Regions from separate parts of the Homo sapiens genome. Here region 2 is linked to region 1. Evidence: fine-mapped expression QTL. A gene starts in region 1. The other region holds a variant in brackets. All regions are shown on one strand. Distances are from middle to middle.

Region 1 (5,294 bases):
CATGGAGAAACCCCATTTCTACTAAAAATACAAAATTAGCCGGGCGTGGTGGCGCATGCCTGCAATCCCAGCTACTCGGGAGGCTGAGGTAGGATAATCGCTTGAACCCGGGAGGCGGAGGTTGTGGTGAGCTGAGATCACGCCATTGCACTCCAGCCTGGGCAACAAGAGCGAAACTCCGTCTCCAAAAAAAAAAAAAGCAAGGTTCTTGAATTATTTTTTTCTAAACAGGCTGTTTAAGGCAATCTATATAAGCCACTTTCTGGATATGCCAAAGCAAACTGCTCCTCTGCCTTTGTGAGCCACAAACGAAGCTGATCTCTCATTAGCTAATAGATTTATGCTCCAGTATGACAACTTGCTCAGTCGTAGGTGAATAGGTGCGCACACGAGGCTGATCCACAGAGAACATTAGGATGTTTTATTTTGCTTCAAGTGCCTGTGAATCATCCCGACACTCAGTTCCAATGTTCCCTGCAGTTTGAGTTAAAAACAGAATGCAAAGGTAGAAGCCAACACCTACGTTGTGGCAAGCTGTCAATCAGGCCGTGCAGAGCTCAGCAACAGGAAAGGATGTGGTCAGATGTACTCGCTGGCAAGAGTAACTTCTACTAAGACCCTGTTCAGGCTGCATGCTTCCAAACAAACAGCACCATGGGACCCTCCTAACACTGTGACTTTAAACTCAGTCCATACAGTAGGACTTAATGAATTGCACTTGCTTTGGGGCAACTGAAAAAGGAAGATGAAATGTAAAGGAGCTCAGAAACACAGACACCCTCATCTAAAATGAAACTTTACAGTAACCCTCGGATGCCTGGGCCCACCCCGACACTTCCTGTAACCAGACACTCTCCGTTACAGTTCCTTGCCCTCCAAAAGGGGACTTTTTCATTTCATTGCTCAAACCACAATTAAGTCCTTGAGTCTGAAGTCAATTGCACTATCTACACCACGTAAATGACAGTCATTCAATTCCAAATTTCCTTCATCAAACCAACTGCCAGACCCACTGTCCTGGAGTTCTTCAAACACCTACGAATGTCCAACAGGCACGTTAATACTGAGATACCAGCGTCTCCACCTTCAGAGAACTACCCCCCACCCCACACACACCCCGCCATGCAACCTTCCACTCCATTTCTACTCTCAAACTTTCTAACGCACCATTCTTTCCTTCCTCCGAGAAGAAGGTAACTTACATTTGCAGCATAATTTGGTTCAAAAAGATGCCGTCCACTAAATCCATGTACATAGTCAGGTTGTCCTGGCTGCCGCTTCCAAACGGGCCAAAAGTTTTCACCTGCGGGGAGGGGGACGAGGAGAGAAAGACAGGAAGTCACCCCGTGCGCACAAACGGTCCAAAGCTCTCCCAGGCAGAGACTGGACGGGTCAGTGTGAGCAGAAGGGGGTCACCCACGCCCACACCACCCTTCAGCAGGCACCAAGCCCGGCCTTCTCCTAGGGCCTGTCTCCCCTCCCCGCGCGGGGCAACAGACACGAGACAGGAGGAAAAACTTCCTCGCCACTTTTCTCCCGCGTTCCAGAGCGGAAGAAATAAAAATAAAAAGGACTTTTCAATAAATGTCTCACGTCTCAAATCCATTGTAAATCAGTGCGCCCACCCCAGTCTGTTCGCTTTCCCATTCGGCGCCCCCCATTCCCCACCCGTCACCGCCATCCACCGGCTGGTCTCAGGGATTCAGAAAAACTACATGAGATATTTGGTTGGGAAGAATGGGGTCCTTTTCGGGAGTGGCTAAACCCCAGGGACAGGAGTGACCACTGGGACCCGGTCCGCCCCGAGGCAGCCAGCCTAGAGCCCCAGCGGGAACAGGTGTACCCGCCCGGCTCCTGGCCCGGCCGAAAGCGCGGCGGGGTCCCGCGCCGGACGCACAACGGGGGCGCCGGCTCCAGAGTTACAAAGCTCCGGACTCCAGGACGCGGCCCCAACCCCGGCCGGGAGCCACTTGCTGCGTCCCTCGCGCCCCGGAGCCACCCGGGGCCCCGGCCGTGTCGGGTCTGCGGCGTCCCGTCGCCGGGCTAGAGAGAAGCCGGTGCACCAACAAAGGGGCGGGGAGCCAGGCGCACTCACCCAGGTCACCAGCGGGCTCTGCAGGAAGAGCTCCAGGAGCTCCGAGACTGTCACGTCCATGCTGAGGCTGCGCCCGCCGGCTCCGCGCCCCCCGCCCCGCGTCCCCGTTCCCCCGCGCCGCGGCACAAAACGGCTCCGCAGCGAGCAGCGGGCGCGGGGCTGCGGCGGCTCGCGCCCGGGAGACAAAGGCGGGGCGCGCGAGCCCACGTTCCGCGGCTTCGGCGGCCCCGCGCCCCGCCCGGGTCTGGGGGAAGGGGAGGGCCAGCCGCTCGGGGAGGAACAATACGGGCGGCCCCGCCCCTCGGCGGCCCTGGGCGACCGGCGCGCCGCCTCGCGGTGCCAGCCCGGGAGCCCGGGAGCCCGGGCGCGGGACCAGGCTACGCGGGGCGCTGGGAGGGGACTGGTGGCCCGAGGCGGGTGGGTCGCGGGGCCCGGCTCCCCGCCCGTGGGACCGCGCGCCCTCGCCGAGCGCAGCCTCCCCGCGTGTGGGGCCCCAGCACGTGGCGCATCCCTGCGCGCGTGCGCGTGCAGCCGGGGCCCGAGCGCCACGTGCGAGCTGGGGTGCGCGGGCACTGGTGCGTGCCGGGAGCGGGGACGCCCTGCCCTCCGAGGTTGCTCTGCCCTCCGAGGTCGCCCGCAGCTGCCGCCCGCTCTGGGCTTGGGGACCTCGGCCCTGCGCCTTTCCGCACTCCTGGCAGGTGCAGCCCCAGGTACAGTCAAGAGGCCCCGCAAACCCCCGCTCCTCACGCTTGTGCGCGGCGCGATAAACGCGCCCCGACCCTGGGGCTGGGCTGGAGGGCAAAGAAGAAACTTTATGTTGAGTTTAGGCCTTAGGGGCGCGGCCCCTCGCGCCCTACCGTGCCCCACCGTGCCATGTTCCGGGCTGCCTGCCTTCTAAAAGTTCCTGCAGGAAGCAGGTGATGTGGCCTCCCCGACCCGGGCCCGCCCCCACCACTTTGCCGGAGGCGAGCTAAATTCCAGCCGGGGTTCCTAGCAGCAGCTTAGTGGCAGGCGACAGGAAAAAGGGCAAAGGCCCCAACTGGCTGGAAGGCAAGCCCGGGGGCAGGACCTCCTTGCGGGACGGCACGAGGCAGGAGCCGGCTCCAGGCTGGTCTCGGCCTGGTAATAATTTCACACCACCAGCCGGTCATTGTTCAAAGCACTGTAGACCATTTTACTAATTTAACCCTAACGATCGCCGCATTTCGCAGCTGGGCCAACTGGTACAGGGTTGACCCGAAGGGCCCTGCGTGGCGCTTGGCAAGTATACAGCAGGCACTAAATGGCTGCCGACAGGCTCGGTGGTAATTTTGAAAGTTGGCTCTGTGCAGCGTTGGGGCTGCGGCATCTGCTGGTGGCGAGTGGTATTACAGCCCAGCGCTGGCGGACCCCGTTGGGCTGGGGAGGGTTGTGAGATTATGGCCTGAGAGCCAAGGGGGTCGGTTAGGGGTCCCTAGAGACTGTGGAAGGCGGGGTAGCATAAAACACAATGGGGGACTGCGGAGGAACTAAAATTTCGAGACTACATGGTTTTGTTGTGCACCAGAAGTTCATTAGAGAAGTTCCTTAATTGCTTCTCCGCCCGCCGCGATGGCACTCGACCCCGCGGATTAATTTAACAACTCTGATGGTTGCTCTGTGAAATTTAAAGAACAGTGGTTTAAGCAAAGACCACAAGAAAGAAGAATTGAGATCAAAGAGGAGTGTGTGCCATCGCTGTGGAGGAGTTTCAGTTGTGAATCATGAAATGTCCTGTAAACCATTTCAAGGAGTTTGATTTTTATACCAAAAACAATGGGAAGACACTACAGGTTTTTGGAGCAGCAGCTCAGACGTGTCGAAAAAGATGTTTTGATCCCTAAAATAATGAGAGAAAAGGCCAGAGAGAGGTCTTCTGACAAGTTCAAGATTTTACCAAATGTTGCAAGAACTCTGGAATCCTTATGGTAGTAAAATGCTGGAAAGAAAATTCTGCATTGAAAGAATGTCTTAACAGCTCACTATAATGACCCAGCCTTTTATGAATAATGCAAAGTGGAAAACCTGAAGGAAAAGGAAGAATTCAGAAAAACTGGAATTTCTACAAAGAAAAGTCTACAGAAGCTGCCCACAAGTGTGTAGACAAATATTCAGATGACATTCAGGATCTCTAATACTCATGGAAGTCGTTTATAGAATAAACCTTAAATAATGGACTCAAGAATGTGTGTTTGCTAATTATGTGTGTATCCTAATTATGGAAATATTAATTTTATCTGAAATAAAAATCTTTTTTTCTTTTCTCTTTTTTTTTTTTTTTTTTTTTTTTGAGACAACAGAGTCTCACTCTGTTGCCCAGGCTGGAGTGCAGTGGCGTGCTCTCTGCTCACTGCAACTCCGCCTCCCGGGTTCGCGCCATTCTCCTGCCTCAGCCTCCAGAGTAGTTGGGACTGCAGGCGCCCACCACCACGCCCGGCTAATTTTTTGTATTTTTTACTAGAGACGGGGTTTCACCGTGTTAGCCAGGATGGTCTCTATCTCCTGACCTCGTGATCCGCCTGCCTCGGCCTCCCAAAGTGCTGGGATTACAGGCGTGAGCCACCGCGCCCGGCTAAAAATCTTTTATTTAAAAAAGTTCCTTAATTGCTCATAATGTAAGTTAGTTCAAAAATAGGTATGATGTGTACACACACCGCTCTTCGCTCGGAAGCCTCTCTTCTGAAAAGTAAGGGATGCAGATGCGGCCAAAGTTGTTTTTCCAATTTTTTTGGAAAGACAAGGATGAGGAATCTTTAAAGTTATTTATTGAGGCCGGGTGCAGTGCCTCACACCTGTAATCCCAGCACTTTGGGAGGCCTAAGTAGGTGGATCACTTCAGCCCAAGAGTTCAAGACCAGCCTGGCCAAAAAAAATAGAAAAATTAGCTGGGTGTGGTGGTGCACACCTGTGATCCCAGCTACTCTGGAGGCTGAGAATCACTCGAACCCGGGAGGGGAAGGTTGCAGTGAGCTGCTATTGCACCATTGCACTCCAGCCTGGGTGACAGAGCAAGACTCTGTCTCAAAAAAAAAAATTTATTGAGTAAGCTTATTCTTTCACACTAAGAAATACAGTGGACAAATGCCTTCTGACAGTTGTGAGACTTTTCCCATCCTGGTGAGGGAATTTTCCCCTGGGGACATTGACAAGGCCCTGGGCCACAGCCATGTCAGGAATGTTT
Region 2 (5,363 bases), 44 kb before region 1:
CCTCTGTCCCTAAGTCCACCCCTCCTGGCTAAAACGACAGCATCGGTGCTCCAGTGCTTGGAGTTGATATAAGGGCCCTGATTTTATGGCCGTGAGGGATCGTATGACTGTGACTTCATGGTGGTAGAGTACTTTTTTTTTTTAAGCTTCTTGGCAAAGTCAGTATTTTTGCTGATGGATGGAAAAGTCAGTAGTTCTGCTGATGGATAAGCAAGAAAGGGGCAGAGAAAGTGTGGCCAGAGGAAACTACGGTATGCATGCAGGGTGGGCTGGGACAGGCATGACCCCCCCAGCCAGAATGAGTGTAGTGGTCCCATGGGAGGAGCCATGTGCTGTCCAGGCCCAGCCAACCTCACCCGCCGGTGGCAGGAGTACAGAGGCCGGCGGTGGCAGGAGTACAGCACAGACCAAGACCACAGTCTTGGTCCCGAGGAGCCTGTGGAGTCACAGACTGGGACCAAGACTGCCTCCCACACCCTCCAGTCAGGGGTGGCTCTAGCTGATTTCCTGGGCAGGCACCTATCTGTCCTGGGCACACCCTCCCTAGCTCAGCAGAAGCAAGGCCTTCCTCGTCCCAGCAAGTAGCTGGGCTGGGGGAACGTGGCGCCTGCCCACACAGTGTCCCATGTCCCACTCCACCGCTCACCCACCCAGGCCCACAGGCACCTATGCCAGGGCAGGGCTGGGGCCACGCCACACCCTGGCAGCCCTCACCCGGTGGCCTGACAATGCCGCTTCACTCCCAGGCACAAGTCGGAGCAGGATGGTGGAGGGCACCTAGGAGCCTCCAGCGGTAGATGGCAGCCCAGACCACCCCAGCCTGCTGGGACCTGTGAGGGTGGGAAAGGCAGGCAGTGGGGGCAGCCAGCCCCCAACCTCACGCCCCAACCTGAGCCCAGGCCTCAGGGTACGAGCACCACAGCACAAGGGGTACCAGCACTCCCGAGTGACCAGGCCTCCTTGTCCAGTGTCCCAGGGCAGGCATCTGGAGGGCAGGGAGAGCTCCTTGAGGAAGGGCAGCCATTCCCTCTCTCATTTATGCCACACTTCCCGGGCACCTGCTGGGTGTCTGATGGCATGCCAGTTGGGAGGTGGAGGGTATGAAGCCAAGACTGCTACCCTCAAAGCCAGGAAACAAAGACAAGGAGGACAAAGCCTGTGGGATGGGGGACAGTGAGGGGCCCAGGGTGTTTGCTATAGGGCCAGGCCCTGTCCTGGGGAGCTCACAGCCTGATCCCACCAGCAAATCCCACCAGCAAGTCTGGCACCCTAACAGAGGGATGGCAGGCACCTGAGCTGGGGGCACTGGGAGCAGAGGAGAGCGGGGAATCCAGAAAAGCTCCAAGAAGGAGGTGGCCGGAAGCTGAAATGGGAAAGAACAAGGAGCAGGTGACATCCAGGTAGATGGCAGTGGTGCGGGGGGGGGCGGGCGGGGGGGGGAGGCGTGTGTTAGTGCAGGGAGGGCTAGGAATAAAGGAAAAGGAAGACACAGAAGGTGCCCCCATCTTGTGTCTCTGGCTACAGTCCCACGATGAAGGACAACTGAGAACCAGATGTGCACAGAACCACCGTTCAGGGAGTCTGGACCCAGCCCTGTCTGCACGTTATCTAAACGGTGACAGCAGCAGCTTTGGAGTCCCCTCTGCCGGCTCCACCACCACGTTGCTGCTGGGCCTCGGCATCAAGCCCTGCCAGGTGGCCAGAAAGGCAGGTGGCCGGGCAGGCAGGCATCACTTAACCTAGCGACAATCAAGCCTGTGCCTGGCATGAAGTCAGGCCCCCGGAGGTGCTGGCTGAACCTGAGGCCTTTCCTAGCCGTCAGGTTTTGCTGGGCACTGTGCTCTCAACATGCTCCGGGGCGACACACCATCCTCCCTCCTGCTTCAACACAGGGCAGCTCTGCAGGGGGCAAACACAGGAAGCCACAGTCACCACAGTGAGCCCATAAAGGAAGACAGTCCCAGCTACCTGTGTGTGCGAGGAGTGGGGTCCATTCTAGAGATCCCCAGGAATGCACAAACCGTCCCCAGCCCCTGGGCTCAGGACCAAGGAGGAAGAACTGAGCTGGGACATCTGCTGGGGCCACCTTCTCTCTTCTCCCTCTGGCCTCAGGAGGGCCAAGAAAAACACACACGATACCAGTGCCCTATGGTGGTCTGGACTCAAGAGAGCTGGCTTGGACGCTATGCTGAGAACACTAGGGGCAGGTCTGGCCCTGGGAGCAAGTGTGCCACGGTTCATCAGTGACATCTGCCTGGGGCCAAGCAGAACTTGTGCTGGTCAAATAGCAAAGGATGAAGAGAAGGAAAAATTCTACACACATGGGAACCATGAGTCTCCAGCATGGATAAATAAGACTGTAATTACCCCTCCTTAGCCCCCACTCGCTCCTCCAAAAAAGCTTTCTGGAGGAAACAGACAGCAGAGCAGACATTTCATGCAAACTGGTCTCTTTTCATTACAGGAGTTTGCAGCAAAAGATCAGACTTCATCTAGAGAGCAAGAAACTCTCTATTCTATCACCAAGAATGTA[T/C]TCTATAGCAGGAAACTGGGGGAGGGCATATCGGGACACAGTTGAAAAGCCGGGGAGGAGGAAGGTTCAGAAGTGACAAGTTTCTAATGACTAATATCTCGGCAGGAAGTGAAAATCTCAAAAGATGTTATCAACTTTGCAGCAGCTGTCCAAGTTGGGGGGTGGGCAGGGGTTGGAGGTGACCTGGCAGCCCAGCCGGTCCCCTGCCCACCCGCACCTGACAAAATCCTCTCTGTCCAGCCACACTTGCCTCCAATGCCTTCCTCAAACCCCTCCGCCGGCAATGATCACTTCCTCAGCAATCAGTGCCCCCAGGCCCCTCTCTCGTGTCCCTGCCTGAGTCCCACACAGGGAACTGAGATCCTCAGGGTCCCCAGGGCAGATGCTGGAACATGCTCACCTCTGAATCCCCCCAGGGCTCTGCACAGTGTGGCCCACAGCAGATGCCTGCCAGCTGCTGGCTAAATGGAACTGGCTGCGGGGAGGAAGGCTCTGGTGAGAACAGAGGCTTTTTGGGACCTCCAACTAAACGCACCCTCCCCCATCTACAGTGTAAAGAACACTTTATTTCGAACAGCAATAAATCAGCATGCTGCATAAACCAGGAGCTTGGCTAGACACACTGTGTCTATTACCTCTCATCCTAACTCTTGCAGGCAGTAGCAGGGTTAAGTCCACCAGGTATCTGCTAATGCAAGGTCCATTTGATCAATAGGTATTTTTCATTGCTTGGAATATTGGAGTAAATGAGAGGGCTAAAGAGGTAAATATATGTCACATGTGTGTGTTAAGAAGCAAAATAAAGGAACATAGGAGGAAGTGACAGAAAACATAGCTCTTACAGACAGGTGGTCAAAGAGGGCCCTCGATGAATCGTCAGCTGAACAAAATGCGAGTGTAGGGAGGGTGTGAGCCAGGTGGACGGGTGGAACTGGAGAATCCCAGGCAGAGGGAACAGCCAGGGGCAAGGGGTTACAGCCAGAACAGGCCGTGCAGTCCTGCTGAGCACAGAGCCTGGGGTGGCCCAACCGACCTTTGAGGCCATTCCAACAGTCTGGCAGCATCTGCAGTGGTCTCTGCAGTCAGGCTCATTCCGAAGCCTCAGGAGGCACAAGGAAGTCTCACACAAGTAACTCACTGTGATCCCAGGGGTAGTTTAAGCTTGGGTTCCAGGCACAGATGACTGGTAGTGGTTACCTAGAGTTCTGTGTTGAGAAGGATTCTGAGGCCAGATCTGGGCTCAGAGACAAAGAGGGCCAAGATCGGTCAATGGTGCCTGTCAGAGCCAGGAATGAAGATGTGGTGACACTCCCTTACGGAGCCCAATGGGACAGGCACTGTAACACGTATGTGGTATACAACATGCCGAGGGGATGTGGGCAAAACACCAGGAACTCTCTTCACTAGTTACGAAGCTACAGACTGAGTTTCCTCTGCTAAACCAGCCTTACTCTTCGAGTCTCCTTCTTGGGCTGTGGGCTCCTGAGGGTGGTGATCTGGGCGGTCTCGCTCCCCAGGGCTCTCCCAGGGCCTGGCACACAGCAGGGCTCAGCCATCATTTGCCAAATGAGCTAATGAAGGGCCACAGGCCCCAGGGTTAGCATGCGCGCGTGTCTGTGTGTGTGTGTGCGCGCGCGCATGTGGGAGAGAGAGAGACAGGCTGTGTGAACAGCCTGAATCTAAAGGACTGGGACAGAAACAATGCCCTTCAATTAGACCAACTGGACCCCTGCTGTGTGAGGCTCCGACCTGAGGACTCCAAAAAAAATCAAATCAGATGAAGCTTATTCTTCCTTTTTTCCTTTAAGTAGGGAAGCTTTTCTTCAGATGTGGGTGAGGTGGGGAAGAGGGGGGTGGGCAGCGGAATCAAAGAGCGTTTTCGGGGAAGGAGGGAAGGGCAGGCGCACAGACCCGCCCCGGCACCTGCTCACGAGGCAGACCAGCTGCTCTGGCTTCCCCGCAGGGCCGGCCGAGAGCCCACACTTCAGGCAAATAAAAGCACCCTCACCAGCTGTTCCCATGGCCAAGCCAAGCAGGATGGCAGTCTGTGCCAGCCCTGCCTCGGCAGCAAGTGGACTCTTCCAGCCCAAGCCACGAGATGAGGGGAGACTCAACCCTGTCCGTGCCCGGAGCACCTTCCCTGTGCGAGGCTCCTCAGGGCGAGTGGGGGGCAAATGTCTCCTTCTGATCTGACCCTTTCCAGCAGGCATGCATCTTCTTGCGTTCAATGGGGCAGGTGCCGTAACTGTGCCCATTTTACAGAGGAATAAACTGAGATACAGACAGTAAGGATGTGCCCTGGGGTCACATGACTACAAGTGGCGAGGCTGGGGCTGGAAACGTAGACCTTCCAGCCCCGCGAGTTCACAGGAGAAGAGGCTTGAACCCAGTCAGCCAACAGCCAGCAGCCCAAATGTATCTGCGGAGGAGACCTGAGGAGCTGGCAGGCGCAGAGGACCCTTTAGGCTGTGGCAGCCAGGAAAGGCCACACTTGTCACTCCCGCTGCTGCCCCCCAGGACAGGGTGACGATCATAGGTCAGGCTTCTCTCCTGTGAGCTCAGAGCCTCCTGAAACACCCAGGTGCTCGTCGCCGGGCATATGCATGTCTGGCTGGTGGTGGGGGCGCTGTCTGCTCCTGCTCCCTGACCTTGGTCGCCATCTTCTGCGCTTTGCACACTCATGACTGCCTCGATTTTATATCCACTCATGTGTTCATTCACTCACCCAACAAGCGTTTAGTGAGCCCCCGTCCCCTCAAGGCATGTGCTAGGAGCCAGGGCGTTATAGTGAATGGAAACAGATAGGACCCCTGCCCCCCAGGAACCACAG

Evidence for each region.
Region 2: its variant is fine-mapped to the expression of CCDC88C in whole blood (TOPMed, PIP 0.96).

The regions. Positions count from the first base shown.
Region 1 is chr14:91,415,536-91,420,829 of GRCh38, forward strand. CCDC88C (coiled-coil domain containing 88C) reads right to left here and starts at 2,285. Exons shown (of 30, transcript NM_001080414.4): 1 at 2,096-2,285; 2 at 1,203-1,303. The coding sequence starts at 2,155. It overlaps CCDC88C-DT (CCDC88C divergent transcript), which reads left to right and starts at 2,711. Exons shown (of 3, transcript NR_184261.1): 1 at 2,711-2,805. It also overlaps the pseudogene LOC112268126. RefSeq lists enhancers at 211-340, 731-860, 871-1,160, 2,766-3,410, 3,651-3,700 and a silencer at 1,781-2,700.
Region 2 is chr14:91,371,112-91,376,474 of GRCh38, forward strand. All of the region lies in intron 3 of CCDC88C (coiled-coil domain containing 88C), which reads right to left. LOC107984673 (a long non-coding RNA gene) reads left to right here. Exons shown (of 2, transcript XR_001750858.2): 2 at 1,525-3,140. Among named protein-coding and RNA genes, the nearest start is that of CCDC88C, 44 kb to the right of the region's middle. RefSeq lists enhancers at 642-1,254, 2,858-2,927, 4,390-5,062. The variant T/C (reference allele first, on the strand shown) is at 2,534.